7 separate regions of the Homo sapiens genome follow, and regions 1, 2, 3, 4, 5 and 6 are each linked to region 7. The links come from fine-mapping of genetic effects on gene expression. A gene starts in region 7. Each other region holds a variant in brackets. All regions are shown on one strand. Distances are from middle to middle.

Region 1 (4,190 bases), 370 kb after region 7:
GCCAGGTTACATCTTATATACATAAAAGGGTGTGGACTATGATAATTTTGTGGTTTGTTGTTATTAGAATGTGTGTATGTGTTTTCTGATTAAAGATATAATAATATTTTCATGGCAGGAAATTTGGAAAATGTAGAAAAAGCTAAAGAAAAAAAGAACTACCCATCATCTTGCCTTTAAATTTATAATACTTTTTAAATAGTTGAGATTATTTTATATGAACAGCTACATTTTTTTTTACCTAATGTCATAATATCAAAGTCTTTGTAAATATAACTTCTAAGTTACTAGAAAATATCTTGTCCTACTTCAATATTGGGCAGTTAAGCTGATTGCTATTTTTTGCTATTATAATTACTGCTGAAGTGATCATATTTGCTTATCAGTATTTTCTAGTTATAGTGATCATAATTTTTATCATTTTCTTGTTTTCTTCTCAAAAGGACTTAAGAGAGCTTAATTTAAGTATAGTTATCTTCAAAGGTTTTCTGGCTTACCTAGATGAGAAAACTTTATTTGAATGTGGTCAGAAATTGCAATAGTTTATTAGAGTAATTCAGTACCATTGATTGTACATCACAGTGCATTGTGCTTTTTAAGATATTGCTGCTTTCTAGTATTCCACGACAAACAAGTTTCCAATGTAACTAAAAGTTCACTGACATTGTATAATTATATTGTGTCTGAAATTTACTTACTGGTTCCTCTAAGTTAAATAGGGAACACGGGTTAGATTGGGCATTAAATGAGATATTTTTAAGTTCAGAATCCAAGTTTAATCATAAGGCCCTTATGATGAACACTAAACATTCTCCTAGTAAAGCTTAGTTAGAGAAATGACTTAACCTTCTTAAAGTCACACAGCTAGTGCCAAAGTCATGATGTGACTCTGATGACCCTCGGCAGGCTGCCATTACCTTTGAAAACCACTGTATGTCTGTCTCCATTGCAGCACCCTGTGGAAAAGCAGGGTGCTGCAGTGCTCTGAGTTATGTCCTCATTCTTGTTCGCACTTCTTGAAAGGCAGAAAGAATCAAATGCAGTCAGATTTGGTTTTATATAACTATGTATAGTTTTTTTTATTTCAATTACATGCTTTTTAAGTATCTCAGCTATGTATTCTCAGCTCTATCCCCATTTCTGCATGTCTTGGTTGCCTAGTTTCTTGCCAAGATTACTGCCAGGAAACCTCATATCATCTTCTACTTTCTGTCCATTTACCTATTAAATGACAAATTCAAACCAGCTGCTTAAGATCTAAATTTCTTCACTAGTTATCATTGCTTTCAAGATGCAATCTGAGTTTTCAAATCCCTCCTTGAATTTCTATCCCACCTTAACCAGGCTAAACTAGCTCTTTGCTGTTTCTTAAACATTCCATGCTTTTTTGCCTATGTGTCTTTGGACATGCAACTCCCTTTGCGTGGGGTAGCCCTTTTCCCTTTTGTTTAGTCAATCCTCTATGTTCTCTCAAATTTAGATTAGACATCAGACATCACTTTCTTGAAGAATCCTTTCGTAACTCCCCAATGTAGTTACATATCTTTCTTATGTATATTATAGCAGTTAATCATAAGTGTTATATTAGTCACCTTGGGCTACCATAACAAAATACCACAGATTGGGTGGCTTATACAACAAAATTTATTTTTTCACCATTCTGAGGGGTGGAAGTGCAAGAGTGAGGCAATGTCAGAGTTGGTGTCTGATGAGGCTTCTCTGACTTGTAGATGTCCACCTTCTTGCTGTGTCTTCACAGGGCCTTTCTTGTGTGTGTGAGTGGAGAGAGAGAGTACTCTGGTATCTCTGCCTCTTCATATAAAGACAAGAGTCGTATCAGTTTAAGGCCTTACACTTACGAATCTGTTTAACCTTTACTACCTCCTTATAGGCCCTGTCTCCAAACGTAGTCACATTGTGGGTTAGGGCTTCATTCAGCATATGCATTTGTGTGGGGAGGATGAAAGGAGCACAGTTTAGTTCATAACAGGTATTTTCATTGTTTCTTTATATGTCTCTTCTTTCCTGTAAACCAAGCTTGTCCAACCCATGGCCCATAGGCCACATGCAGCCCAGGATGGCTTTGAATGTGGCCCAACCCAGGTTCATAAACTTTCTTAAAACCTTATGAGATTTTTTTTAATTTTTTTAAAGCTTATCAGCTATCGTTAGTGTTAGTGTATTTTATGTGTGGCCCCAGACATTTCTTCTTGCAGTGAGGCCCAGGGAAGCCAAAAGATTGGATACCCCTGGTCTAAACCAAGGGATAGGGAGCGGAGACTGTGTCTTGTCTTTTTTTCTGCATTGCCTAATTGCCACTGAATCTTAAAGATTAACAGTCCTAAAAATGGAAGATAATATTCCATTCTATTCTATTCTGTTTTTTAGACATAGGGTTTTGCTTTGTTGCTCAGGCTGGAGTGCAGTGGTGCGATCATAGTTCACTGCAGCCTTGAACTCCCGGGCACAA[A/G]CAATCCTCCAGCCTCAGCCTCCCAACTAGCTAGGACTATAGGAGCACGCCACCATGCCCAGCTAATTATTTTTATTTTTATTTTTGTAGAGATGGGGTCTTAATATGTTGCCCAGGCTGGTCTTGAACTCTTGACCTCAAGTAATCCTCCCACTTCACCCTCTTAAAGTGCTGGGATTACAGTTGTCAGCCACCACAGTTTCTCTCTGTTGCTCAGGCTGGAGTGCGGTGGTGCAGTCATGGCTCGCTGCAGCCTCAACCTCCAAGGCTCAATCATTCCTCCTACCTCTACCTCCATAGCTGGAACTACAGGCATGCACTGCCATTCCCAGCTAATTTTTGAAATTTTTTTGTAGAGGCAGGGTTTCGCCTTGTTGCCCAGGCTGGTGTCAAACTCCTGGGCTAAAGCAGTCCACCCGCCTCAGCCTGTCAGAGTGCTGGGATTACAGGTGTGAGCCATTGCATCCAGCCTACTCCTAGAGTTCCCCTTGCCCAGTACGTGAAGTCCTGCCTTTGAAATATTTGTGCCCAACAACATTCTGTCTTAGTTGATCTCCAGCAGAAATCTCTAGCAGCACTGTCTAGTTCGTAGGACTTCATTAAATGCTCAAAAAGTATAACTCAGCATTATATAAAATAAGTGAATGTTTTCTCTATATATCTTCTTTTTTTTTGAGACGGAGTCTCGCTCTGTTGCCCAGGCTGGAGTGCATGATCTCAGCATGATCTCGGTTCACTGCAACCTCCACCTCCCAGGTTCAAGCAGTTCTTCTGCCTCAGCCTCCCGAGTAGCTGGGACTACAGGCGTGTGCCACTAAGCCCAGCTAATTTTTGTATTTTTAGCAGAGATGGGGTTTCTCCATATTGGCCAGGCTGGTCTCAAACTCCTGACCTCGTGTTCTGCCGGCCTCAGCCTTCCAAAGTGCTGAGATTACAGGCAGGAGCTACCACGCCCGGCTCTCCATATATCTTCTAAACCTTAACTTGAGAGGAAAACAAAAAGGGGAAGTGATACCAGAGTTACGGAGGAAAAGCTACTGTCTCAGGAACTGAGACCATGGGAGGGACATGATCACTTTTAGAAAGATACAGTCAGAAGAAAGAAGGAAAAAGAGAGGAAGAAAGTGGCTCCTCCTCCTTTTTCTAATGCCTTGTCGTCAGAATTTCACAGTATGTAATAACTTCCTGTTAAGATATACAGAAAATATAATTTGTATGCTCCCAGCCCTAGGATTACAGAGAATGGTGATCACAGGGCTGAAAGAGTTCAGATAAATAACCAGCAACAGGTTATATAAAACCTAAAGTTTTAAAAGATGTTCTCCTTTGTGTCTGAAACTCTGAACTTCTTAAGTAAGCATTTGTACTTGCCCCTTTTAAAATTAGAGTTAATGGCACGGTGAAACCCCATCTCTACTAAAAATACAAAAAATTAGCCAAGCGTGGTGGCGGGCACCTGTAGTCCCAGCCACTCGGGAGCCTGAGGCAGGAGAATGGCGTGAACCTGGGAGGCGGAGCTTGCAGTGAGCCGAGATCGCACCACTGCACTCCAGCCTGGGCAGCAGAGCGAGACTCCGTCTCAAGAAAAATTAAGAGTTAATGGTAGCTAAAAAAAAAAAAAAAAAAGCTACTATTCACCAATGTTAAGTATACATTTACGGTGTATAAGCAGCTTTTCAAAATGTTTTACATGCACTACCTCACCTAAAACCTATTATAG
Region 2 (4,190 bases), 120 kb after region 7:
TGAAAGGTAATTTACGTTATCTCAGCAAAATTTTCAATAATGTGAACTACAAGGCATAAATCTTTAGCAAAAAGATTTTTATTCAATATTTTATTATCAAACATTCAAACAGAAAAGTTGAAAGAATTATACAGTGGGCCATATCATATAATATACTCATCATCTAGATTCTACAATTAACAGTTATTTTTATCACATGTCTAATGATCTATGCATCACTCTATTCATCCATTAATTCATTTTTGTTTATATATTTCAAAGTGATTTGCAAACATGAGTACACTTCACACCTGAACACTTTAGCACAGCAAAAGGATTTTTTTCAGGTATAGTATTTGTCCACTGGAGGGCCTCCAAATGCCATAAAATGCATTAAAAGTAAGTTCATCTGTAGTCCCCAAGAACTGGAGAAGGTCCAGGGAAGGAGATGCATGGAGTGTAAATTGCATCAATTAGGGCAAGAGACTCAATCTGAAATCCAGAAAGAAGATTTCAACATTTTTTATCTTTACCCTCAGAATTTCTCTTCCTCTTTTTACAGCTACTTTCATTGTAAAGGAGAAAATATATCACAGGCCTCTCTCCCCAACAAATGATTTGAGCTCTTGAAGGTAGCAATTCTTTAGACCAGAAACTCAGGAAACTTGAAGTCAAGATGTTGTTATATTTGTGGAAATGAGTTGATGACATAAATTAAATGTTTGTTAGTTTGTTGATTGTTAACTCTCCACGAGGACAGGGATTTAGTTATCACTTGTCCCCAGAATGTAGACAGACACTCGTTGGAACATACTAGTGCTCAATAAATATTTACTGAAGAAATGAATGAATCCAAGTGCTTTATTCCAAGTATAATCTTCACACATTTAATGTCATTACTGATGAAAGTTAAGACAATTAGCCTACTTTTTAGTGTAATAGAAATAGAGCTCAACATAGCTATGTAATATAATGTATACCATTAAATTCCAAAAAGGAAAACAATCTAAAATGTAACTCATTTTTCCAAAAACGTGAAGAAATCTCGAGGATTCCACTGGGAAATTACCTTTAAAAAAAAACAAAAACAAAAACAAAAAGGGCTGTGCACAGTGGCTCATGCCTGTAGTCCCAACACTTCGGGGTGCCGGGACAGGAGGATTGCTTGAGCCCAGGAATTCAAGACCAGTTTGGGCAACCCAGGGAGACCCTGTCTCTACGAAAAATAAAAATTGAAAAATTAGCCAGGCTTAGTGGTGCATGCCTGTGGTCTCAGCTACTTGGAAGGCTGAGGTGACAGGATCACCTGAGCCAGGGAGGTCAAGGCTACAAGTGAATGATGATAATGCCACTGCACTCCAGCCTGAGTAACAGAGCAAGACTTTGTCTCAAAAAAACCCCATAAAATATGGATATAGATTGATTATTGTAGATCTGGAGCTGCAACTACAGAAATGACCATTTTTTGCTATGTGCAGCAGAAGAGTCAGCTTAAGCCTTCCCAGCTTCCGGGGCTCAGCTGGCGCTGCTGGGGCAGGTGCTGCAGAGACTTGTGTTGCTGGGTGGAAGTCGCGCTGCCTTCTGGAGAGGGCCACAGAGAAACTTTCCAGAATGGGCTTCCCAGAAGCAAATGTGAAGTTTTGAAATGGGGCTGAACTTCTGTGAATCCATGGGAACAAGAGCCAGTGGAATTTGAATCGTTCATGTTACTCTCCTTTTGTACCCACAGACTGGTGATACCTGAGGAAATTCAAGTACATTGCAATTTTTTAATTAACTTTTTTTTTTTTTTTTTGAGACGGACTCTTGCTCTGTCGCCTGGGCTAGATGGCGCGATCTCAGCTCACTGCAACCTCCGCCTCCTGGGTTCAAGCGATTCTCCTGCCTCAGCCTCCAGAGTAGCTGGGATTACAGGCGCCCCCCACCACGCCCGTCTAATTTTTTGTATTTTTAGTAGAGACGGGGTTTCTCCATGTTGGTCAGGCTGGTCT[C/T]GAGCTCCTGACCGCAGGTGATCCGCCCACCTCAGCCTCCCAAAGTGCTGATATTACAGGTGTGAGACACAGCACCGGGCCTTTTTTTTTTTTTTTTTTTGACAGCGTCTAGCTCTGTCACTCAGACTGGAGTGCAGTGGGACATCATGACTCATTGCAGCCTCTAACTCCTGGCCTCAAGTGATCCTCCCACCTCAGGTTCCCAAGTAGCTGGGACTATAGGTGCACACCACTGTGCCCAGCTAATATTTTTTTATTTATTTTTTTAAGAAATGGGGTCTTGCTTTGTTGCCCAGGCTGTTCTCAAACTCCTAGGCTCATGCAATCCTCCCACCACAGCCTCCCAAATACTGGGATTACAGGCATGAGCCACTGCATGCAGCCTTTAAATTAGCTTTTTTTTTTTTTTTTTTTTTTTTTTGAGATGGAGTCTCGCTCTGTCACCCAGGCTGGAGTGCAGTGGCGCGACCTCGGCTCACTGCAAGCTCTGCCTCCTGGGTTCATGCCATTCTCCTGCCTCAGCCTCCCGAGTAGCTGGGACTACAGGCGCCCGCCACCGTGCCCGGCTAATTTTTTGTATTTTTGGTAGAGACGGGGTTTCACGGTGTTAGCCAGGATGGTCTCGATCTCCTGACCTTGTGATCTGCGTGTCTCGGCCTCCCAAAGTGCTGGGATTACAGGCGTGAGCCACCGCACCCGGCCCAAATTAGCTTTTTAAGGTAATCATTTTCTTTAATACTTCTTTGGCCTAGAAGAGCATCTCCATATTCAGCACAAATTCAGGAAACTAACATATATCTCAAACAGCAGTCAGGGGCTGGGCTCACATCTGTAATCCCAGCACTTTGGGAGGCTGAGGTGGTGGATCACCTGAGGTCAGGACTTTGAGACCAGCCTGGCCAACATGGTGAAACCCTGTCTCTACTGAAAATACAAAAATTAGCTGGGTGTGGTGGCGGGCACCTGTAATCCCATCTACTCCGGAGGCTGAGGCAGGAGAATCACTTGAACCCGGGAGGCATAGGTTGCAGTGAGCCGAGATTGCACCAGTGCACTCCAGCCTGGGCAACAGAGTGAGACTCTGAAAAAAAAAAAAAAAAAAAAAGGGCAGGGAGCAGTGGCTCACATCTATAATCCCAGCACTTTGGGAGGGCAAAGCAGGCAGATCGTGTGAGCTCAGGAGTTCGAAACCAGCCTGGCCAACGTGGTGAAACTCTGTCTCTGCTAAAAATACAAAAATTAGCTGGACGTGGTCGCGCGCACCTATAATCCCAGCTACTTGGAAGGCTGAGGCACGAGAATCACTTGAACCCGGGAGGCAGAGGTTGCAGTGAGCTGATATCGTGCCATTGCACTCCAGCTTGGGAGACAGAGCAAAACTCTGTCTCGAACAACAACAACAACCAAAAAAGAAACAAAAATTAGCCGGGCGTGGTGGCGGGCGCCTATAGTCCCTGCTACTTGGGAGGCTAAGGAAGTAGAATCACTTGAATGAATCTGGGAGGCAGAGGTTACTGTGAGCCGAGATCGCGCCGCTGCACTCCAGCCTGGACGACAGAGAGAGACTTCATCTCAAAAAAAAAAAAAAAAAAAAAAGACCCAGTCTCTACAAAAAATTTAAAAATTACCGGATCATGGTGGTGCCTGTGTGTAGTCCCCTACTCAGGAGGCTGAGATGGGAGGATCACTTGAGCCCAGCAGGTCGAGGCTACAGTGAGCAGTGATGGTGCTACTGTACTCCAGCCTGGGTGACAGAGCAAGATCCTAAAATAAAAAACAAACAAACAAAACAAAACAGCTATTAGGAGAATTTTTAAAAATATTTTTGTCAGCCAGGCGTGGTGGCTCATGCCTATAATCCCAGCACTTTGGGAACCAGAGGTGGGCAGTTCATTTGAGGTCAGGGGTTTGAGACCAGCGTCGTCAACATGGTGAAACCCCGTCTGTACTAAAAATTACCAGAAAATTATCTGGGCTTGGTTGTGGGCACCTATATCCCAGCTACTCGACAGGCTGAGGCAGGAGAATCTCTTGAACCCGCAAGGCGGAGGTTGCAGTGAGCTGAGATCTCGACACTGCACTCCAGTCTGGGCAACAAGCAAAACTCCATTTCAAAAAAAAAGAAAGAACGAAATTTTTTGTCTCTACAGCAGAATGAGACAAAAATTATTTTTTGATTGTTCCTGCACAGATAATAACATAAACAGTAATTTTAAATCT
Region 3 (4,190 bases), 29 kb before region 7:
GGACAACACCAAGTTTTACTGTGACTGCTCGGGCAGCTCTTAGATGTCAGGTGCTGTTTTTCTCATTCATTTTTTGAGACAGCATCTCCCTCTGTCACCCAGGCTGGAGTGCAGTGGCACACTCACAGCTCACTGCAGCCTCGACCTCCTGGGCTCAAGTGATCCTCATACTTCAGCCTCCCTAGTAGCTGGGACTACAGGTGTGTGCCACTACACCCGGCTAATTTTTATATTTTTTGTAGAGACAAGGTTTCACTATGTTACCCAGGCTGGCCTTGAACTTCTGGGTTCAAGTGATCCAGTCACCTTGGCTTCCCAAAGTGCTGGGATAAGCATGGTGAGCCACTGTACCTGGCCATGCTTTTCTCTTTCTTATAGGTAAGCAAAGTATGGCAGTTCATGGAAACCGTCTTTATAAGAGAGCTGATGGGTCCTTTGCCCCCGATTATTCTTTTCTTCCTTCAGACAGACTGGAATATGGTTGTGATGGCTGGAGTAGCCCAGCTGAAACAAGAGGTGACCTTGGGAATGGAAGCTACAAGAGTACCAGGCCACCTCAGCTCTAGACTAAGCCATTGTTTTTTGTTTTTTTTTTTTTTTTTTTTTTTACTCACAGCTGAAGCTATTCCTGACTGATACAGGAATCTAGTGGTAAGTTCTTTTTTCAGTGGGTTTAAGGTTGGTTTCATATCTTTAAGCTGGACAGATTGTCAGATAAATGACTTAAGAGTCAGAACTAATTACCTTTGTACAAATGGAAGGACATCATGAATCTGTATCATTGTAAGTAAAATACTATGACTTGATGATGACTATTTGCTGAGATACTGTGACTTTTCTAATATATGATGATAATAACAGTAATGACACTTATATTCTCCACGGCTGTTGAGATTAACACTTTTGGCCATAGTACATTGATTTAGGTTTTAAAACATGACACTAGAAAGACTAAAATAATTAATTTAATTAATAAGTTTAAACATGAGAAAAAACAAACTAGTTAAATTTACTCAATTTGGTCAAAATGTCTGTTTTCAATATGCTATATCCCTTGATAGTTTTCTGTTACCTGAAGATATTTTCAAGTTGTCTTTTTATTTTTTTAATTACAGACATACATAGTTGTTTTATAGTCTGTGGATCTGTTTCTAATATCTGCTGTTTCCTTTGAATCTTGCTTACAGGGCCAGACTTCCTTATGTACCTCAATATCTTTGTGCATTGCTCATTGTAATTGAAAATTTGTTTTATTTTTATTTGGGGGGGGGGGCGGGGTTAGGCTCCATTCTACAAAACAGAATGAAAAGGCCAAGATGGGCGAATTACCTAAGGTCAGAAGTTTGAGACTAGCCTGGCCAACATGGTGAAACCCCGTCTCTACAAAAGATCGAAAACTCAGCCAGGCATGGTGGCAGGTGCCTGTAATCCCAGCTACTCGTGAGGCTGAGGCAGGAGAATCACTTGAACCCAGGAGGCAGAGGTTGCAGTGAGCAGAGATCACACCACTGCACTCCAGCCTGGGTGACAAGAGCAAGACTCCATCTCAAACAAAAAAACAAAATATCAACCCTGGCCAGGCACAGTGGCTCACGCCTGTAATCCCAGCACTTTGGGAGGCTGAGGCAGGCGGATCACGAGGTCAGGAGATCAAGACCATCCTGGCTAACATTGGTGAAACCCCGTCTCTACTAAAAATACAAAAAATTAGCCAGGCGTGGTGGCGGGCACCTGTAGTCCCAGCTACTCAGGAGGCTGAGGCAGGAGAATGGCGTGAGCCTGGGAGGCGGAGCTTGCAATGAGCTGAGATCACGCCACTGCACTCCAGCCTGGGCGACAGAGTGAGACTCCGTCTCAAAACAAAAACAAAAACAAAACAAAAAAACAACCCCATTAAAAAATGGTCGAGTTTCCATGGTGAGATGGTCAACAAGCCTGTAAGTTCCTCAGCTACGACTACCAGGTACCTCGGGTTCCTCCCTCCTCCGAGAGACCGCCGAGGTGCGGGCTGTGAGAGAGGGAGCGTGGAGCCTCCGAGGCCGAGGACTCGGTCCCAGTTTGGACAGATAGAAGATCCTGCCGAGTGCCTGTGATTGCAGGCACGCGCCGCCACGCCTGACTGGTTTTGGTGGAGACGGGGTTTCGCTGTGTTGGCCGGGCCGGTCTCCAGCCCCTAACCGCGAGTGATCCGCCCGCCTTGGCCTCCCGAGGTGCCGGGATTGCAGAGGGAGTCTCGTTCACTCAGTGCTCAATGGTGCCCAGGCTGGAGTGCAGTGGCGTGGTCTCGGCTCACTACAACCTACACCTCCCAGCCGCCTGCCTTGGCCTCCCAGAGTGCCGAGATTGCAGCCTCTGCCCGGCC[G/A]CCACCCCGTCTGGGAAGTGAGGAGTGTCTCTGCCTGGCCGCCCATCGTCTGGGATGTGAGGAGCCCCTCTGCCTGGCTGCCCAGTCTGGAAAGTGAGGAGCGTCTCCGCCCGGCCGCCATCCCATCTAGGAAGTGAGGAGCGCCTCTTCCCAGCCGCCATCACATCTAGGAAGTGAGGAGCGTCTCTGCCCGGCCGCCCATCGTCTGAGATGTGGGGAGCGCCTCTGCCCCGCCGCCCCATCTGGGATGTGAGGAGCGCCTCTGCCCGGCCGAGACCCCGTCTGGGAGGTGAGGAGCGTCTCTGCCCGGCCGCCCCGTCTGAGAAGTGAGGAGACCCTCTGCCTGGCAACCACCCCGTCTGAAAAGTGAGGAGCCCCTCTGCCCGGCAGCCGCCCCGTCTGGGAGGTGAGGAGCCTCTCCGCCCGGCAGCCACCCTGTCCGGGAGGGAGGTGGGGGGGGTCAGCCCCCCGCCCGGCCAGCTGCCCCATCCGGGAGGGAGGTGGGGGGTCAGCCCCCGCCCGGCCAGCCGTGCCATCCGGGAGGGAGGTGGGGGGGTCAGCCCCCCGCCTGGCCAGCCGTGCCGTCCGGGAGGGAGGTGGGGGGGTCAGCCCCCTGCCCGGCCAGCCGCCCCGTCCGGGAGGTGAGGGGCGCCTCTGCCCGCCCACCCCTACTGGGAAGTGAGGAGCCCCTCAGCCCGGCCAGCCACCCCGTCCAGGAGGGAGATGGGGGGTCAGCCCCCCCACCCGGCCAGCCGCCCCGTCCGGGAGGGAGGTGGGGGGGTCAGCCCCCCGCCTGGCCAGCCGCCCCGTCTGGGAGGGAGGTGGGGGGGTCAGCCCTCCGCCTGGCCAGCCGCCCCGTCTGGGAGGTGAGGGGCGCCTCTGCCCGGCCGCCCCTACTGGGAAGTGAGGAGCCCCTCTGCCCGGCCAGCCGCCCCGTCTGGGAGGGAGGTGGGGGGGTCAGCCCCCCCCCCGGCCAGCCGCCCTGTCCGGGAGGGAGGTGGGGGGGTCAGCCCTCCGCCCAGCCAGCCGCCCCGTCTGGGAGGTGAGGGGCGCCTCTGCCCGGCCGCCCCTACTGGGAAGTGAGGAGCCCCTCTGCCCGGCCAGCCGCCCCGTCCGGGAGGGAGGTGGGGGGGTCAGCCCTCTGCCCGGCCGGCCGCCCCGTCCGGGAGGCGAGGGGCGCCTCTGCCCGGCCGCCCCTACTGGGAAGTGAGGAGCCCCTCTGCCCGGCCACCACCCCGTCTGGGAGGTGTGCCCAACAGCTCATTGAGAACGGGCCAGGATGACAATGGCGGCTTTGTGGAATAGAAAGGCGGGAAAGGTGGGGAAAAGATTGAGAAATCGGATGGTTGCCGTGTCTGTGTAGAAAGAAGTAGACATGGGAGACTTTTCATTTTGTTCTGCACTAAGAAAAATTCTTCTGCCTTGGGATCCTGTTGATCTGTGACCTTACCCCCAACCCTGTGCTCTCTGAAACATGTGCTGTGTCCACTCAGGGTTAAATGGATTAAGGGCGGTGCAAGATGTGCTTTGTTAAACAGATGCTTGAAGGCAGCATGCTCGTTAAGAGTCATCACCAATCCCTGATCTCAAGTAATCAGGGACACAAACACTGCGGAAGGCCGCAGGGTCCTCTGCCTAGGAAAACCAGAGACCTTTGTTCACTTGTTTATCTGCTGACCTTCCCTCCACTACTGTCCCATGACCCTGCCAAATCCCCCTCTGTGAGAAACACCCAAGAATTATCAATAAAAAAATAAATTAAAAAAAAAAATGGTCAAAGGACATGAACAGAGACTTCTCAAAAGAATATACACATGTGGCCAACAAG
Region 4 (4,190 bases), 150 kb after region 7:
TGTGTATTTTTAGTAGAGACGGAGTTTCACCATGTTGCCCAGGTTGCTCTTGATCTCCTGACTTCAGGTGATCCACCCACCTTGGCCTCCCCAGAGTGCTGCGATTACAGGTGTGAGCCACCATGCCTGGCCTCCTATTGCTTCTTAACTTGACCTCATTAACTATTGCATCTGCAATGATAGTATTTCCAAATAAGGTCACAGTTTGAGATAATGAGGGTTAGAACTTAAACATGAATTTTTGAGGTACACAATTTAACCTGTAATACACCATATTATGTCTATATTTATTTATTTATAAATTATTTGGATCCAGTACTATAATAACAATTACACACATTGTAACTCCTACACAATTTGAAATTTTCAAGTTAAGACAAAGGTAACTATATATAGAAGCAGTATGTTTTCTGAACCCTTACAGATTGTTTTGCACACTCCTGGATTACACACATCTCATCAATCTCAAGAATAAAATCAAAGTCTTTGGCTTGACAGCCTTCCACAATCTGACCTCTGTTTTCTCGCCAGCCTCATCTCCTGTCATTCACAACATTTCCAGCATTCCAACCAGTCTGAACTTTTGCAGTTTCCCACGTGCGCTAGGCTCTTTCTTCATCAGCATCTCTATGCATGCTGTCTCCTGCTACTGGAATGCCCTCATTCTCGTTGCTTCCTGTGAACACGTGGTAAACTCCAATCATCTTCTGAAACTCGGCTCAAACGTCATCTCCCCTGGGGAGCCTTCACTGACTGCCCTGGGCAGCATGAAGCATTTTGTCAGTGCCCCGTAGCACCGTGGTCATATCTTTATTATTGCAAATTTCTGTTTCCACATATAATGTCAGGTGGAACCGATAGCTGGCTTACAAAAACAATGCAATTTCAGGTGGTTCTACTTAACATTCCCTAGACAACAAGTTCACTGAGAGCAGGGACTGTGTTTTATTTATTTTATATTTCCAGTCCCTAAAATGGAGTTTGGCATAAAGTAAATGCTTAATACAGGCTTTCTGAAATTAAGGAAAAGCTTACTCTAGCACTACAGTCTACTTGCAGATTTTCCTTTTTGAGAACGGGGTAGTAAATTGATGTCTTCTATAACAATAACTATTAACTATTACTTAAATTTTCTTTGACTTTATTTAGCTTAACATTATTTTAAACAATTCCTTCCCCTCTTTGTTTGCTTCTGTATATGTGATAAAATATCTTCAAAAAATATACTCTTTTTGTTTGTTTGTTTTTAATTGGTGACTGGGGTTTCACTATGTTGCCCAGGTTGGGCTCAAGCAATTCTCTTGCTTCAGCTTACTGGGCAGTTGGGAATATAAGCATTTGCCACTGTGCCTGGCCTTATTTTTTAAAAATACAGAAAAATCAGGAAGAAGGTACCTAAGTACTGTTTTGTAACCAATACCAAAGTATTTCACAATTTTACTGTCTTACTTTCAAAATATTTTAATCCTTCCAATGAGAATTACACGTAATCATAAGTAGGAATATAAATAGGAAAGCTAAAGAGATTAGTTGAGTAAAATGAATATGACATTTAAAATTCTAACAATTATTTAGTAACAGCAAAGGTAAATCTAATTCCCAAATTTCAAGTGTCCCTAATATTACCTGTTTTGAAGAAAAGCTGTGATACCGGCAACAGTGTTTAAGTATCACACGGGTAGTTAAAAGGCAAGTTGGTCCTATCTGACATGTGGAAATGGCCAGCTCGTTAGAAGGCAGTACCTGGTGAAGCCTGTGAGGAATGAGCAGGAAGTCAAAATGGTTACGTAAACATTTTTCACTCTTCCTCATTAAAGCCCTTAAGTTAACAAAAGGTATTTACTGACTCCTCAGCATGCCAAGGCAGTCAAGAGCAACACTTTACACAATCTGGCTCTCACCCATTTTAGAGAGCCCTCTCCTTTTACGGCACTTCGTGTCCCTTATCCTTGAACCACAATGAACTTCTCATAAACAATACCACATTGAGTGTGTCATTACTCTCATCTCTTTCCAAATGCTTGTTCCTCAGCCTAGAAAGTCTTTCCCCATGTTCTTTGCTTACTAATCTCATTATATTATTAATTACATTGTCACACAGTGCTGGGCCCATTGTAGACACTTAATACTGTTTGACTGTCATCAGTAATAAATAGGATCACAGTCTTGAACAACAGAGCAACACAGTCTTTTTTTTTATTATACTTTAAGTTTTAGGGTACATGTGCAAAATGTGCAGGTTTGTTACATATGTATACATGTGCCATCTTGGTGTGCTGCACCCATTAACTTGTCATTTAGCATTAGGTATATCTCCCAATGCT[C/A]TCCCTCCCACCTCACCCCAACAACATAGTCTTAAACAACAGATTATTTGGAAACAGATCTTGTGATTAAAGTTAACTCCATGAGGACAGAGACCATGTCTGCCATATCTCTTGCTATATTCTAGCACTTAGCCTAGTGCCTGGCAACAGGTAGGTGTTAAGTATTTACTGACTAAACACTTAATATACGTGAAAAATAAGAAAAAGTAGACTTATTGGGTTAGCTTTAAAAGTTAAATAAAAGAGTGGTTAGGCCCGGCGCGGTGGCTCATTCCTGTAATCCCAGCACTTTGGGAGGCCGAGGCGGGTGGATCACGAGGTCAGGAGATCGAGACCATCCTGGCTAACACGGTGAAACCCCGTCTCTGCTAAAAATACGAAAAAAATTAGCCGAGCGCGGCAGCGGGTGCCTGTAGTCCCAGCTACTGGGGAGGCTGAGGCAGGAGAATGGCGTGAACCCGGGAGGCGGAGCTTGCAGTGAGCCGAGATCCCGCCACTGCACTCCAGCCTGGGCGACAGAGCGAGACTCCGTCTCAAAAAAAAAAAAAAAAAAAAAAAAAAAAAAAGAGAGAGAGGTTATTTCCTTGATGGGTCTTTAGCTGTTTTAATTATTCATCTATTTTCAAACTAATGGTATAGAAGTAGTTATTAATTTGAGGGGAATCAAGAAGAGCCAGCACTTGAATCTGAGGCAAAATATGTATTAGGATAGCATCATATTGTTACCTCAAGGCACATAAATCATACAGACAAGCTTTTCAAAGCAGAATCTGCAAAATTAAAATTATGAAATAACTTTGTGACAGTCATAGTTTTGTACTTTGTTGGCTCTACTGGCATGTGCAGTATTTGTACAAAACTGCACTCTTCTAACTGTGGGTTATCAGTTATCAGGAACCCGATCCTGTAAAAACTAATCTACTCCTGGATAATGGCATTAATCCTTTCATGAGGGCGGAGCCCTCATAACCTAATCACCTCTTAAAGGTCCCACCTCTGAACACTGTTGCATTAGAGATTAAGTTTCTAACCCATGAACTCTGGGGGACACACAACTTTCGGGGACACATTCAAACCTGTTCTTTTCTATGAGATAAAAGCACTGGAATCTACCAGCACTCTAAGAAACACTGCATCTTTTTTGAATGCCTATTTTCTAAACATAAAACTTAAATTAACTTAAACTTCTAAAGAGCCCTGACCAATGTCTGGATTTAACATTTTGATGCTTTAGACTTCTGCTTCCTCTTGCAAAATAGGATATATTAGAAAGAAAACTGGTGTAGAGTCAGAATAAACATGAAATTCCAGCTCAGTTTTGAAAAATGCCTTGGAAAGCTTTGTAGAACTGGGATGATGCATAACACCCACAAACATAAGAGATACACAAGGCACTCAGTAAACACTATCCTCTTAACCACAAGTGGTCTGACAGTGTGGCTCAAACTATGAAGCCAAGAATGGTTATTCTGGAGGTTATTCACTGTTCAAAAAGAAAGTAAAGGATAGTAAAGAAAATTAACAAATTACGTACAGGGCTGCATTTGCAATTCAGACATTCTATGAGTCTATCATTTTTCCTTACATTTCTTTGCCAGACCTAGGCTTCAAGGTGTGGATAAATACACTTTACTCTCTACCTACCAGTTCTTACCTAAAATAGCTTCCTCTTCCTGGAGAATTGACTGGAACCACAAACCTTTTTTTTTTTTTTAAACAACCACAAAACTTAAGCTTTTCTTTTCAGAGATTTATATTATTGAATAAGGCTCCTGATACACATTTTATAGGCCTCCTATCCCTTTCTTAAAATAAGTATCAAAATGAGCTGATGTTCTTCCATATGAAAATTCTGGCAGCATAATT
Region 5 (4,190 bases), 50 kb before region 7:
ATAGCTAATAGTAGTTGTTTTGCTGGGGAATGTGAGGAAGAGGGCTACAATAAATTGGGAGTACTAAAATCTCCAGGAGTGGCCAGACTGAGCTGGGCATCAGAGGGGGATTACTGTCACTTAAAGGGCATGGTGGGCACATTACAATTTGTCCTGGTACTTCACATGGCAGTAGCCAATCCCTTGAGAGTTTGGTAAGGTTCCCTAGTAACTGAATTTTGTCTAGCTTGTCCCAGTGGCACAGCAAGCACAGCCAGGAGAAATGTGGTGGATTGTATATGGTAAACGCAAAGATGAACTTCCTGATTATAAGGATGAGAAACACTGGAACCAGCTCCTTAGAGAGAGGGAGTTTGTAGAATCTGTATCCTGGAAGAAGTGGCTCTCTCACAGGAAAAAGTTCTTTGATAGAAGGTAGCTTTGTGGAGTGTGTACACTTAACTGGACATGACTGAAGATAGTAGGGGAGGATGAGCTTTGCTTTGAATGAGAAGCAAAGGAGTTGCCCTTTTTTTTTTTTTTTTTTTTTTGAGACAGAGTTTTGCTCTTGTTGCCCAGGCTGGAGTGCAATGGTGCGACCTAGGCTCACCGCAACTTCCGCCTCCTGGGTTCAAGTGATTCTCCTGTCTCAGCCTCCTGAGTAGCTGGGATTACAGGCGCCCGCCACCATGCCCAGCTAATTTTGTATTTTTAGTAGAGACGGTTTCTCCATGTTGGTCAGGCTGGTCTCGAACTCCCGACCTCAGGTGATCTGCCCACCTCGGCCTCTCAAAGTGTTGGGATTACAGGCGTGAGCCACCGTGCCAGGCCAGGAGTTGTTAAAAATGAAATACCATGAGTAAAGTATTCATTTCTGTCCAAAGCAAAAAAAGACCCTATCACATTACAAATGATTTTTATTCTGCAAGAGATCTAGTAAACAGACCATCTAGAGAACCTTACAGTTCAGGCTTACAGATCTACTCATATTTCCTTTTAATGGGCAATTTCTTGTAATTGTTTTTGATAACAAAAGTACTTCCAACTGGAAACTGGTAAAGAACAGGCTAATTTGGGGGAACTGCATACTCCTAAAATACACCTTTATGATTTCTCTAAACTCCCATGTTGCCCTCAACAGTTTATAAGCATATGACAGGAAAATAGGGGAACTATGAGGAATGTGGGTGGGGAGCCCAGTATAGCACAAACACCTGGATCTTGTTCACTTCATTCACTGATCATTAGCCCACTGCCAGCAACATCCTTCTGTCCAGATATTATCACAGCATCCTCTTCTTTACTTACTAAAATGTGAATACCTACAACACACTCAACAAAGAATTCAATTGAACTAATACTTTCACATCTTATCCTCATTTGAAAGCACATTAATATTATTGTACTTCAGTTTCTACATATGTAAAATTGGTGTGCTGGAGGAGTTTGAACAAACTAGATGATCTATGAAGTCTCTTTCAATTCTAAGATTATAAGTTTCCTTTTTTTTATTATTTTTCAGACGGACTCTCACTCTGTCACCCAGGCTGGAGTGCAGTAGCACAATCTCGGCTCACTGCAACCTATGCCTCGCGGGTTCAAGCAGTTCTCTACCACAGCCTCCCGAATAGCTGGGATTACAAGTGCCCACCACCACGCGCGGCTAATTTTTGTGTTTTTAGTAGAGACGGGGTTTCACCATCTTGGCCAGGCTGGTCTTGAACTCCTGACCTTGTGATCCACCCGCCTCGGCCTCCCAAAGTGCTGGGATTACAGGCGTGAGCCACCGCGCCTGGCCAAGATTATAAGTTTCTGTAGTCTTTCCAGGCTGACAGTGCTGCTTTTGGACTATGGAGTTAGAACTGGCTCTGCCACTTTCTTAGTGAGCGACTTTGGGGAGGTTGCCTAATCCCCTTTGGAAACAGTTTCCTCATGTCATTGCTATCATTATCACGCCCACTTGGTGCACTTTGTTGGCCAAGTTACTTAACTTGAGATGCTGTGGATGGGATTAAGAATGCACAAAGGTTGGCCGGGCGCGGTAGCTCATACCTGTAATCCCAGCACTTTGGGAGGCCGAGACGGGCAGATCACGAGGTCAGGAGATCGAGACCATCCTGGCTAACACGATGAAACCCCGTTTCTACTAAAAATACAAAAAATTAGCTGGGCGTTGTGGCGGGTGCCTGTAGTCCCAGCTACTCCGGAGGCTGAGGCAGGAGAATGGCGTGAACCCGGGAGGCAGAGCTTGCAGTGAGCCGAGATTGCGCCACTGCACTTCAGCCTGGGCAACAGAGCAAGACTCCGTCTCAAAACACACACACACACACACACACACACACACACACACACACACACACACACACACACAAAGGTTGAGCATCCCTAATTTGAAATCCAAAATTCTCCAAAGTCTGATACACCTGACCCCAAGTGATGGATCACAGTAAAAATGCAGGCATACAACACAGAGTTTATTCAA[T/C]GTCTCCAAGGGAAAAAAGACCCTTCCACCCCAGTTCAGCTGCAATATATATTTTCTGTGCATGACCAAATTCCTCCATGAAAGCACACCCATAAAACGTAATAAAATAGCACATGTGCAGACTGGATGTGCCAACAGCCGGTTCCCCAAAATGCCCTACATGTAGTAAAGACCTACATGCATTGCTCCTTGTGTTTTCTTGTTTATTTTCTACCCTGTGGTGTAAAGATGTTGCTGAAAAAATGTTCAAAAGGCCTGCAGATACCAACAAAAGAGGAAGCATTTATGTTTATAGGATAGCACAGAAAGTCAAGCTGTTGGAGAAACTGGACAGTGGTGCGAATGTGAAACATCTTAATAGAAGAGTATGGTGTCAGAATGACCACCATATATGACCTGAAACAATAGAAGGATAAACAGTTGGAGTTCTATGCTAAAAATAATGAATAAAAATTAGTAAAAACAGAAAAACACTGCATAAAACTAAAAATAATGGTCTTGATCATGTATTGAAAAATTGGATCGGTCAGCGATGCAGTGAACACTTGCCACTTAATGTCATGCTGATAATGAAATGAGCAAAGACTTATGATGAACTGGAAATTGAAGGGAACTGTGAATATTCAATATATCTGGCTGCATACATTTAAGACACAACATTATTTTTTTTACAATTTGAGGTGATAAAGCATCTGCTGATCATAAAGCAGCAATGATTGATGAGCGTGCCCAAGTTATCACTGATGAAAATCTGACACCAGAACAAGTCTATAATGCTTATAAAACATCACTGTTTTGTGTTACTGCCCCAGGAAGACACTGACTACAGCTGATGAGAAAGCCCCTATAGGAATTAAGGATGCCAAGGACAGAATAACTGTACTGGGATATGCTAATGCAGCACACAAACACATTGTAAACTTGCTGTGACAGGCAAAAGCTTATGTCTTCACTATTTTAAGGGAGTGGATTTCTTACCAGACTATTATTATGCTAACAAAAGTGCACAGATCACCAGGGACATATTTTCTGATTGGTGCTCCAATGTTTTGTACCAGAAGTTCATGCTCACTGCAGGGAAGCTAAACTGGAGGATGACTGCAAGATTTTGTTACACGTGACAACTGTTCTATTCACCCTCCTGCTGAAATTCTCATCAAAAATGTTTATGCCATCTACTTTCCCCAAAATGTGACTTTATTAATTCAACCATGTGGCCAGGGTATCCTTAGATCAATGAAGAGTAAATATAAAAACACTTTCCTGAACAGCATGCTAGCAGCAGTGACAAGAGGTGTGGGTGTGGAAGGTTTGCAAAAAGAGTTTAGCATGAAAGATGCCATACATGCTGTTGCCAATGCTTGGAAGACAATGACTAAAGATACAGTTTTGCATGCCTGCAACCTCTAACCTGTGACTATGTGCAGTGATGATGATGATGAACTAAGTAGTGACTTTGAAGGATTTCATATGTCAAGTGAGGAAAACATGAATGTCTGACCTTATATATGCAAAATAATAATATATATGCATCAGTAAGCTGGAAGAAGTAGATATCAAAGAAGCTTTTAACATTGATAATGAGCCTCCAGTTGTTCATTCATTGACCAATGGTGAAATAGCTGAAATTGTTCTGGATCAAGATGATCACAATAATAGTGACGATGAAGATGATGTCATTAACACCAAAGAAAAGGTGCCTATAGAAGACATGGGTAAAACGTGTGAT
Region 6 (4,190 bases), 130 kb before region 7:
CTGTAAGAGTATGGCTGGCCAGCGGGGCCTGAATCACAGGCACAACTCATTTCAGGGACTACAGGGCATTGACCACACACCAAGTCGGATTTGGGGAGGGCAGCTTTCTCCCATAAGGCCTGTCAGATAAAGTCTTTGTAACTGCACATAGTTGGGTCTGAAAAATTACACATAAGTTTTTAATATAGGAGCTGGATTAGCAACCCTTTATTCATTATACAATGTCCTTTATTTCTAATAATTATTTTTACTTTAAGGTCTACTTTGTCTGATATTAGTATAACTACATCAGCTTGGTTAGTGCTTGCATAACTTTCTGTTATTAATCTTCCTGTGTCCTTATATTGAAGATATGTTTTATAAGCAGTATCCACTTGAGATTTTTTCCTCCAATCTGACATTCTTAATCTTTTAATTGGGATATGTAGTCCATTTTTACATTCAATGTAATTACTAACATATTGGGTTGATATTTATCATATTACTATTTGTTTTCTACGTGTCTCACCTGTTTTACTACTCTTCTAAGTTTATTATTTCATTCTATTACCTATTGTCAGTTATATGTTTTTGCTATTCTTTTATTAGTTATACTAAAAGTTGTAACAGGCATCCTTGACTTATTATGTTTTAGTATTATGTGATGCAAAAAAAATCTGAAGCAACTGAAACTCTCATACATTGTTAATGGGAGTATAAATTGGAAAACTGGCAATATCTAGTGAAGCTGAACACATGACTCAGCAACTGCACTTGTACATATATCTTCAAAAGAAATATATACATATATTTAGCAAGGGACACATAAGAATGTCTATAGTACTGTGGTACATTATTGCCCAAACCAGAAACCCAAACTATCCATTAAGTGAAGAATGAATAAATTGTGTTATATCCAAACAGTGGAATAGTACAAAACAATGAATTAATATTCTGCAATAACACATGTGAAACTGAGCAAAAGAACCTTCCCCACCACCAAAAGAAGGTACAAATTGTATGTTTCAATTCATACACAAGTTTTCAATAATGGGCACAACTAATGTACAGTGTTAGATAAGTGACTGTTAGAAAGGAGCATGAAGGACTTCTGAGGTTCCATTAATGTTTTCCTTCCTGTTCTGAGTCTTAGTTGCATAAGTGTGTTTCACTTGGTGAAAATTAACTAAGCTGTGAACTTATAACTTGTGTCCTTGTCTATATGAAAGCCCTATTTTGCTGAAGGATATACAGACTCTTTACACAAAACATTTAACCTATAAGTTAACTGACCATCTTTCTTCTAAAATTTTAGGATATTTCTCCTAATTCTACAGTTAAAGGATTTAAACACTGGTAGATTCACCATTGTAATTATCACTAATTGGGCAGAAGTGTGTACTTTCCCAATTTCCTCAAAAGTTATCCAAAATTATGGCCGGCACAGTGGCTCACGCCTGTAATCCCAGCACTTTGGAAGGCTGAGGTAGATGGATCACTTGAGGCCAGGAATTCAAGAGCAGCCTGGTCAACATGGTGAAACCCAATCTCTACTAAAAAATACAGAAAATTAGCTGGGCACGGTGGTGCACACCTGTAATCCCAGCTACTCAGGAGGCTGAGACAGGAGAATCACTTGAACCCAGGAGGTGGAGGTTGCAATGAGCCGGGATTGAGCCATTGCACTTCAGACCAAGACTCTGCCTCCAAAAAAAAAAAAAAAAAAAAAAAAGAAAAGATAAATTGCTTAAATTTGACTCATTTTTCCCATACAGGAATAGTTTTTACATGTTAATTACATTGATTATGACAAATTCTAATATTCAGACAAAACATATGCAAACTATCTGTAACTCAGCAAATTTCTGTCTGTATTCCTAAAAGGAAAAGACAAGATAAAAAATAAGGATAATTGGTGAGCTGGACACCTGCACTGGAGCTGGAGGTGGGAAACATTTAGAGAGAGGAAGACCAGGTTTCACTGAGAACTTAGACATCATCCTGAGATCTCTCTTCCCCACCCCTCACAAGCAGCAGCTTAGTGGGTCTCCTAGGGGCAGGGCAAAGGGATAGGGCAAAGTGTTTTCTATACATGGGTATAAACGTTTGTCAGTATATTGACATGTATATGGAGCTGTCAGACTCACTTCACACTGAAGGATAATAAGGATAATAATTTGGTCTCTTAGGAGACTAGGATTTAAATAATCAGTTCATGGGCCAAGCATGATGACTCACGCCTGTAATCTCAGCACTCTGGGAGGCCAAGGTGGGAGGATGGCTTGAGCTCAGGAGTTCAAGACCAACCTGGGCAACACAGCAAAACCCTGTCTCTTAATAATAATAATAAGCTTATGGCTAAGTAGGCCTTCACAATTTAGAGAGTTCTCATTTCTATCTCATCTGCATTGTATAAGGTATTCCAGGCCTACTATACTTTTCAATGAGATAATGATACTTGACCAATATACAGTGAAAAGGTGGCGTAGACTGAACTCAAACCTAGAAAAAGGTAAACAGAACAATGGACTGAGTGTTCTGTATCAAGCTTACAATGAGAAAATGGGTAATTACTCAAAAGTCCTTTGAAAGGCAGATATTGTAGACATCTAAAGAGAATTTCAGTGAGTTTGTTCATCCTGTACA[C/T]GACTCAAAACTTCTGGAATGCAATGTGTCAATATTTTGAGAAGTATTTTTTTTCTTTCAAGATTATAAGTATGCGAGGAGAGATCGTCGCAAAAGTACAGTTAAAAGGTTTCGGCTAAGATAAGAACTCCTTCACAAGAAATCTTGCTAAATCCAATTTACTTGCAAAAGCGTATCTATTTTCAGATTACTATAATACTAAGAGAAAAAATTCTCCAACAAACGCAGATTACAATAAATGACACATTTTTATCCCATTAAACTAGTGGTTCTCAACTCTGGCTGTCTTAAAATCATTAAGGGAGCTTTTAAAAGAACACTGATGCCCCAAGCCATACCCAGGATATTCTGATTTTATTGAGCTGGTGTGGAGCCCACTCTCTGGTGTACATGTATGTGTTTTAGATTCCCTGGGTGATTCTAATGTACAGCCAGGGTTAAGAACCATTGAACTACAAATGTACATTACATATTAAGCAATATTTGTTAGAGGGCATAACTTGGACCATCTTATAATATAACCATGGTAGACAGAGAGTTGAAAGAAATAAAAATAATGTTTTCATGGGAACATTAGGTAATAACTGCAGGGCTGAATACCCTGCAGTTAAGTACACAGTTCACATTTCAAGGACATGTGAAATAGACAAATTTGGTAATGTTGCAAATCCAGAGACCAATGTCTCACCACATACTATTAAGCCATCGGCTCTTCCTCCCTGGACGAGTTGCCCATGTCTTAACACACCCTTTTAAAAGAAGTATTCAGTAACCTCTTTGCTTATTCATTCTGACTCTTCTCCCAGTAGTTCATCACTGGAAAGTCCAGAGGAAGAAGTTTTGCAATTTCAAATGAGGAAATGTGGCTTAATTTCACAGTTTAGTATATTCAGTTCTCATGAATAAAACAATGTAGCATTTTGATAGATACTTGCATAGGTAAACCTATAAAAGAAACGAGAGTACCTAGATATTAAAGATATTGGCAAGGCATAGCTCTTGTAAAACAAAAGCTGGTTGGCCAGATATTCTCATTCGTTTCAATCTATTCTTTGTCAAACAAAAGTGATTTCACTTTACAGGAATAGGGGTTCTCAAATGTGTACATTTTATCCCAAACTGCTATGAGACAAAAATTAAAGTATTTGTCTTTCCAATGACCATATTTAAGGAGAAAAACGTCATTCAGCCTTATACAAAATTTTGAACTAGTTCCTAATACATACATCAAGAGGTGACAAAATATGATTATACCTATAACATTCCTATTCTGTAAATAATTCATATAAATCCTCAGGCTCAAGATGACCAGTTATTATAATTCCTAAACCTATGCAGTAAACATTATGTGATTTATATTTCATATTCTGAGTAAAATGAAGTTAAGAGAGAGATGAGAATTAGAAGAGGAGACTAGGAAAGAATTAGCGGAAAAAAAAGTAAAAAGGACAGATAGTGGCAAGAAAATAGTAAAAAAAAAAAAAAAAAAAAAGTGAAAACAATGTGATTAAGGTAACCCTCTGGCCCCCAAATCAATCTAGGAATACATAGGAGGCAACCAAAAA
Region 7 (4,190 bases):
GAAAGTATTCTACCACTGATATTTCCTATTATAACCAAATTCGCTGACCAATCTGCTCTGTAAAAAAAGGTTTGTGGGTATAAATGACGAAAGTCAGTTCATGGATCAAATCCTTCAGTTCTGTCACATTGTGAGAGGCCACTGTTGTGAAAGTAAAATAACTTCTAGTTACGGCTCTGCTAAGAATACGCTGGGGGATGTCAGGAAGTCGCTTTATTTGTAAAATGATGAGTTAGACCAGAATATATTCTCTGATAGAAGTTTACAAAGATGAATAAAGATTTATAGGCTAGGCGCGGTGGCTCACGCCTAAAATCCCAACACTTTCGGAAGCTGAGGATCCCTAGTGCACAGGAATTCGAGATCAGCCTGGGCAACCTGGTGAGACCCCCTTCTCTACCAAAAATAAATAAATAAATAAATAATAAATTTTTAAAATGTATTAGCTGGGCTTGGTGACGTAGTGAGGCAGGAGGATGCCTTGAGCCCAGGAGTTCAAGGCTGCAGCGAGCCGTGATCATAGCACTGCACTTTGGCATGGGAGATAGAGCAAGACCTTAGCTCTAAAAAAAAAAAAAAAAAAAAATTAATAGATTTATAAAGTCCATTCTATGGAGGAAAGTCTCTTATTCAGTTATGAACTGCTGCGAACCTAAAGGCAGGAAGGCAAATTCCCTTCAGTTCGGCAAACACGAAGACCCCACATTCGCGTCGTCTGTGAAGAAGGCACTCCGAACCTCAGGCGCTCACTCGCCAGGTTTAAGAGGATGAGCAAAGAATAAAAGTCCTCTCACCCAGGAAGCGTTTCGCTTCCCTTAGCTGGAGCCACGCTCCAAGGTGCCAAAGCCTAATTGCTGTCCACTCTCACCAATCCGTTAGCAAGATGAGCATCTACCTGCTGCGAACGTGGCGGTGACACTACTACAGCTCCCAGCCTGCCTCCCGCCCGCCCCCACTCCTGGACTCCACAGACCGTGACTTGTAGTCCCAGCCCACGGCTGGCGGCGGTGCGGGACTCCTGAAAACTGCTTTTCCTCCCTAGTAGGCGGTGAGACCGCAAATTCCATCAGAATCCTACTCTGACCCACTAGGGCTTGGCCCGCTCAGAGTCGCATTCCCTCCTCCAAATGAACCAACTCTCCTCCCAGCGATACTCCGACCTCTGAGCACCCCGGGCGGGGCCACGCCCCGGAAATGGAGTCAGGTCTCCAGGCCGCCCGCTGAAGTGCCTTCCAGCCACTCCAAGCGGGGCTGGGGCCGGCGGGGCGGGCTTGGGGGCGTGGCCGGGAGGCGGGCGGGGATGCATCTGCGGGCGCAGCGCTTGGGGCGGAGCCGCAGCGCGAGGCCGCGCATCTGGGTGGCGGCGGGGACGCGCCCGTGGGGAGAGGCGGCTGCGGCTGCGGCTGCGGCTGCTGGCGGGGGGTGGGGGGGAGGAGGAACCGGGAAGGGGGGGCAGGGCGAGCGGAGAGCTAGCTGTGTTCCTGAGGCGGCGGCGGCGGCGGCGGCGGCGGCGGCGTCTCCGACGGAGGAGGAGGGCGGGGAAGGAGGATGGAGCAAGCTGGGGGTTGGGGTTGGCGCTAGCGCAGCGGCTCGCCTGGTACTGTGGGAGAGCGGCGGCTGCTCCTGGAAGTTGTGGTGTCGGGAGCCCAGCCGGTGCCGCCGCAGCCGCCGCCTAGGGCGGTGGGGAGGAGGAGGGAGCCGCGGGGCTTGGCGGGGTCGGGAGGGAGGGACGTGCTGGGGGAACGAGCTGGGGAAGACGGAGCGGGCTCTGTGCCGGGCGGGCGGGCGGCGGGGGGGCCAGCGACCGCAGCCGGGGGGACGCGGGAGGATGGAGCAAGTGGAGATCCTGAGGAAATTCATCCAGAGGGTCCAGGCCATGAAGAGTCCTGACCACAATGGGGAGGACAACTTCGCCCGGGACTTCATGGTGAGTCTCTCCCCTCGCTGTCGCGTTTTCTTGCCGGCGCCGGAGCCCATCGCCGCCTCTCCCGGCCGGGCCGCCAGTGCTTTGTGTACCTCTGTGAGGAGAGGGGCGGAGGGGGCGCGCACCAGCCGGGTGAGCCGGGTGGTCTCGGAGGCCAGCGGGAGGCGAGAGCGCCTCCCCCCGTGGCCTCCTTTCTTCTCCCATGTTCGCGACCCCCGCGCGGGTTCCCGGGACGCGAAGGGAGCGGCCGCGCGGCCGAGCCCGCAGCCTGCACCGTGGCTCGCGACCACCTATTGTTTACCGGGCCGGGAGCCGTAGGCAAGTGAGGTGCAGGCCGGGGGGGGGGGCTCGCGTTTCCACACCTCCCCGCGCAGTTCGCTCCTCCCAGGAGGGTCGAGGCAAGGTATCTGGCTGTGACCGGGAGGAGTGCAGATCGTGGCTGACAGAGGAACGGGGGTATTGAGGTTGGCACTAACTCCTGGGATCCCTTTGCTCTAGCTGGTCTCAAAGCGGGCAGGGTAGGACTTAGGCCGTTTCTGGGGTCGCAGTCATGATCTCCAACGCTTGGGAAAGGATTGCCCATAAGGAATCTCATGGGTTTACCTAATTTCCATTTACCCGCGTCCCGCTTCTCCTCTCCTGAGGCCCAGGTTTGAGGTGGTCTTGGGGTCCGTGTGACTATAGGTTCAGGGGATAAGTGTGGGTGGGGGAATTATCCTGAAGGAAGCCAGCCGACTTCGGACTCCCCAGGGGATATTGCCGAAGGCGGAGGGGATGTGACTATCACTTCCTATCCGGGGTGGGGGTGGGGAACTTGGGAACAATAGTCCTGGTGGGGCGGAGGCGACGCTACGGGCCGAAGCCCTGAACTGGGAGATAACCTTCCCAGCGCCCCCCCGCCTCCGCCACCCCCTACTTTCCGCCCTCTGCTTGTGCAGGCAGTCTTGAGAGGAGGTGAAGGTTAAAAGTCTTGTTCATGAAATTGCTCTAGATACACTATTGCTTTAGCACACTGTGAGGGGGTCAGATCCGAAGGCGTGAGACCAGAAGTCGACTTCCTACGTTACCCACCCCCCCAACCCCCGCCCTTTTTATTTTTCTGCTGGACAATGTTCCCTCTAGGGTTGTTTCCCGGCTTAGGAGGCGGTGGTTGCGGCTGCTGCTCCTACGGATATTGCGCAAGACTGGGGCGTTGGAAACCCTGTAGGTCTGGGGAATGAAAAAGGAAGTGGGACTTTGGGAAGTGGTTGCTCCTTAGTCTTGGCGGGGGTTGGGAATGGGAAATAAGCTGGGGAAAATTTTTATCTTGGGTAAGGTACACCTCGAAGAATAATCACTTAATTCTGAAATCTGATTATGAGAAGGATACACAGTTAATGCCTGTAAAATGAATGGGCAGCAAACATTGGCTAGTTTTTATTTTTTGTTTAAAAAGTACAGTAGTTTTTATGGTGGAGGTGATATGACTTAGTAGTGAATACTTTTTCACGTTTTAAAGAGACTGGTCTAGTAAAGCTTTAGCGTTAAATTTTTAACAGCTTATAAAATAGGCCCTTGACCATACACAGTATTATACTAGCATCGTTGAGCTTTGTGATTCCCGCCTCCCCAGACCAATAATAGAGGACGGAAGTAAAGTTTTCTCAGTATCTTTTGAAGATTGAAAATATAAGTTAAATAATCTAACTTATTCCTTATTAAAAATAAAAATATTGCTTATATTTAAACATTTGCTCTTGATATTTAGCCTATGTATTTTTGAAAAATTACTTTTTGATCTGAAAGGGTTAAGGAAAACGGCATTTTCCCTTTTTACTATTGAGAGTTTTTATTGTCTTGGTATCTTTTGAATGGTGTCATTTACAGCAATTGGATGGAGTCCCTTTTTTACTACTTTCTAGCAAAAGTAGAAGAAAATACTTTGAATATTTAAGATGTTTAAAACTAGTTTTTTTGGGTTTTGTTGTTTGGTTGGTTGGTTGGTTGGTTTTTTTTTTGAGACGGAGTCTCGCTCTACGCTCTGTCGCCCCGGCTGGAGTGCAGCGGCGCAATCTCAGCTCACTGCAACCTCTGCCTCCCAGATTCAAGCGATGCTCCTGCCTCAGCCTCCTGAGTAGCTGAGATTATAGGCACGTGCCACCACGCCCGGCTAATTTTTGTCCGAAGTAGCCGGGACTACAGGCGCAAGCTACCACGCCCTGCTAATTTTGTATTTTTAGTAGAGATGGGGTTTCGCCATATTTGCAGGCTGCTCTCGAACTCCTCA

Alleles and levels. Positions count from the first base shown, and alleles are read on the strand shown. Sizes are in standard deviations (SD) of each study's normalised expression. Not every link is listed here.
In carriers of allele A in region 3, the expression in spinal cord of the gene that starts at base 1,577 in region 7 tends to be lower than with G alone (small effect, 0.38 SD a copy in GTEx).

The links.
Region 1: its variant is fine-mapped to the expression of PTPN12 in whole blood (TOPMed, PIP above 0.99).
Region 2: its variant is fine-mapped to the expression of PTPN12 in lung (TOPMed, PIP above 0.99). The same link has a PIP of 0.9 or more in whole blood.
Region 3: its variant is fine-mapped to the expression of PTPN12 in spinal cord (GTEx, PIP 0.99).
Region 4: its variant is fine-mapped to the expression of PTPN12 in whole blood (INTERVAL, PIP above 0.99).
Region 5: its variant is fine-mapped to the expression of PTPN12 in whole blood (TOPMed, PIP above 0.99).
Region 6: its variant is fine-mapped to the expression of PTPN12 in fibroblasts (GTEx, PIP above 0.99).

What each region holds. Positions count from the first base shown.
Region 1 is chr7:77,902,857-77,907,046 of GRCh38, forward strand. All of the region lies in intron 6 of PHTF2 (putative homeodomain transcription factor 2), which reads left to right. Among named protein-coding and RNA genes, the nearest start is that of DDX3ILA1, 85 kb to the right of the region's middle. The variant A/G (reference allele first, on the strand shown) is at 2,471.
Region 2 is chr7:77,657,600-77,661,789 of GRCh38, forward strand. APTR (Alu-mediated CDKN1A/p21 transcriptional regulator) reads right to left here. Exons shown (of 2, transcript NR_134254.1): 2 at 61-1,719. It overlaps LOC105375363 (a long non-coding RNA gene), which reads left to right. Exons shown (of 3, transcript XR_927695.3): 3 at 1-822. Among named protein-coding and RNA genes, the nearest start is that of APTR, 37 kb to the right of the region's middle. The variant C/T (reference allele first, on the strand shown) is at 1,971.
Region 3 is chr7:77,506,467-77,510,656 of GRCh38, forward strand. No RefSeq gene overlaps it. Among named protein-coding and RNA genes, the nearest start is that of PTPN12, 29 kb to the right of the region's middle. RefSeq lists an enhancer at 2,220-3,195. The variant G/A (reference allele first, on the strand shown) is at 2,363.
Region 4 is chr7:77,683,576-77,687,765 of GRCh38, forward strand. The region is part of intron 1 of APTR (Alu-mediated CDKN1A/p21 transcriptional regulator); the gene reads right to left. Among named protein-coding and RNA genes, the nearest start is that of APTR, 11 kb to the right of the region's middle. The variant C/A (reference allele first, on the strand shown) is at 2,325.
Region 5 is chr7:77,485,746-77,489,935 of GRCh38, forward strand. No RefSeq gene overlaps it. Among named protein-coding and RNA genes, the nearest start is that of PTPN12, 49 kb to the right of the region's middle. The variant T/C (reference allele first, on the strand shown) is at 2,462.
Region 6 is chr7:77,407,003-77,411,192 of GRCh38, forward strand. All of the region lies in intron 1 of GSAP (gamma-secretase activating protein), which reads right to left. Among named protein-coding and RNA genes, the nearest start is that of GSAP, 7.3 kb to the right of the region's middle. The variant C/T (reference allele first, on the strand shown) is at 2,626.
Region 7 is chr7:77,535,719-77,539,908 of GRCh38, forward strand. It overlaps PTPN12 (protein tyrosine phosphatase non-receptor type 12), which reads left to right and starts at 1,577. Exons shown (of 18, transcript NM_002835.4): 1 at 1,577-1,927. The coding sequence starts at 1,829. LOC124901681 (a long non-coding RNA gene) reads right to left here and starts at 1,231. Exons shown (of 3, transcript XR_007060395.1): 1 at 653-1,231; 2 at 1-563. RefSeq lists enhancers at 657-706, 877-1,096 and silencers at 1,167-1,466, 1,717-1,926, 2,067-2,116.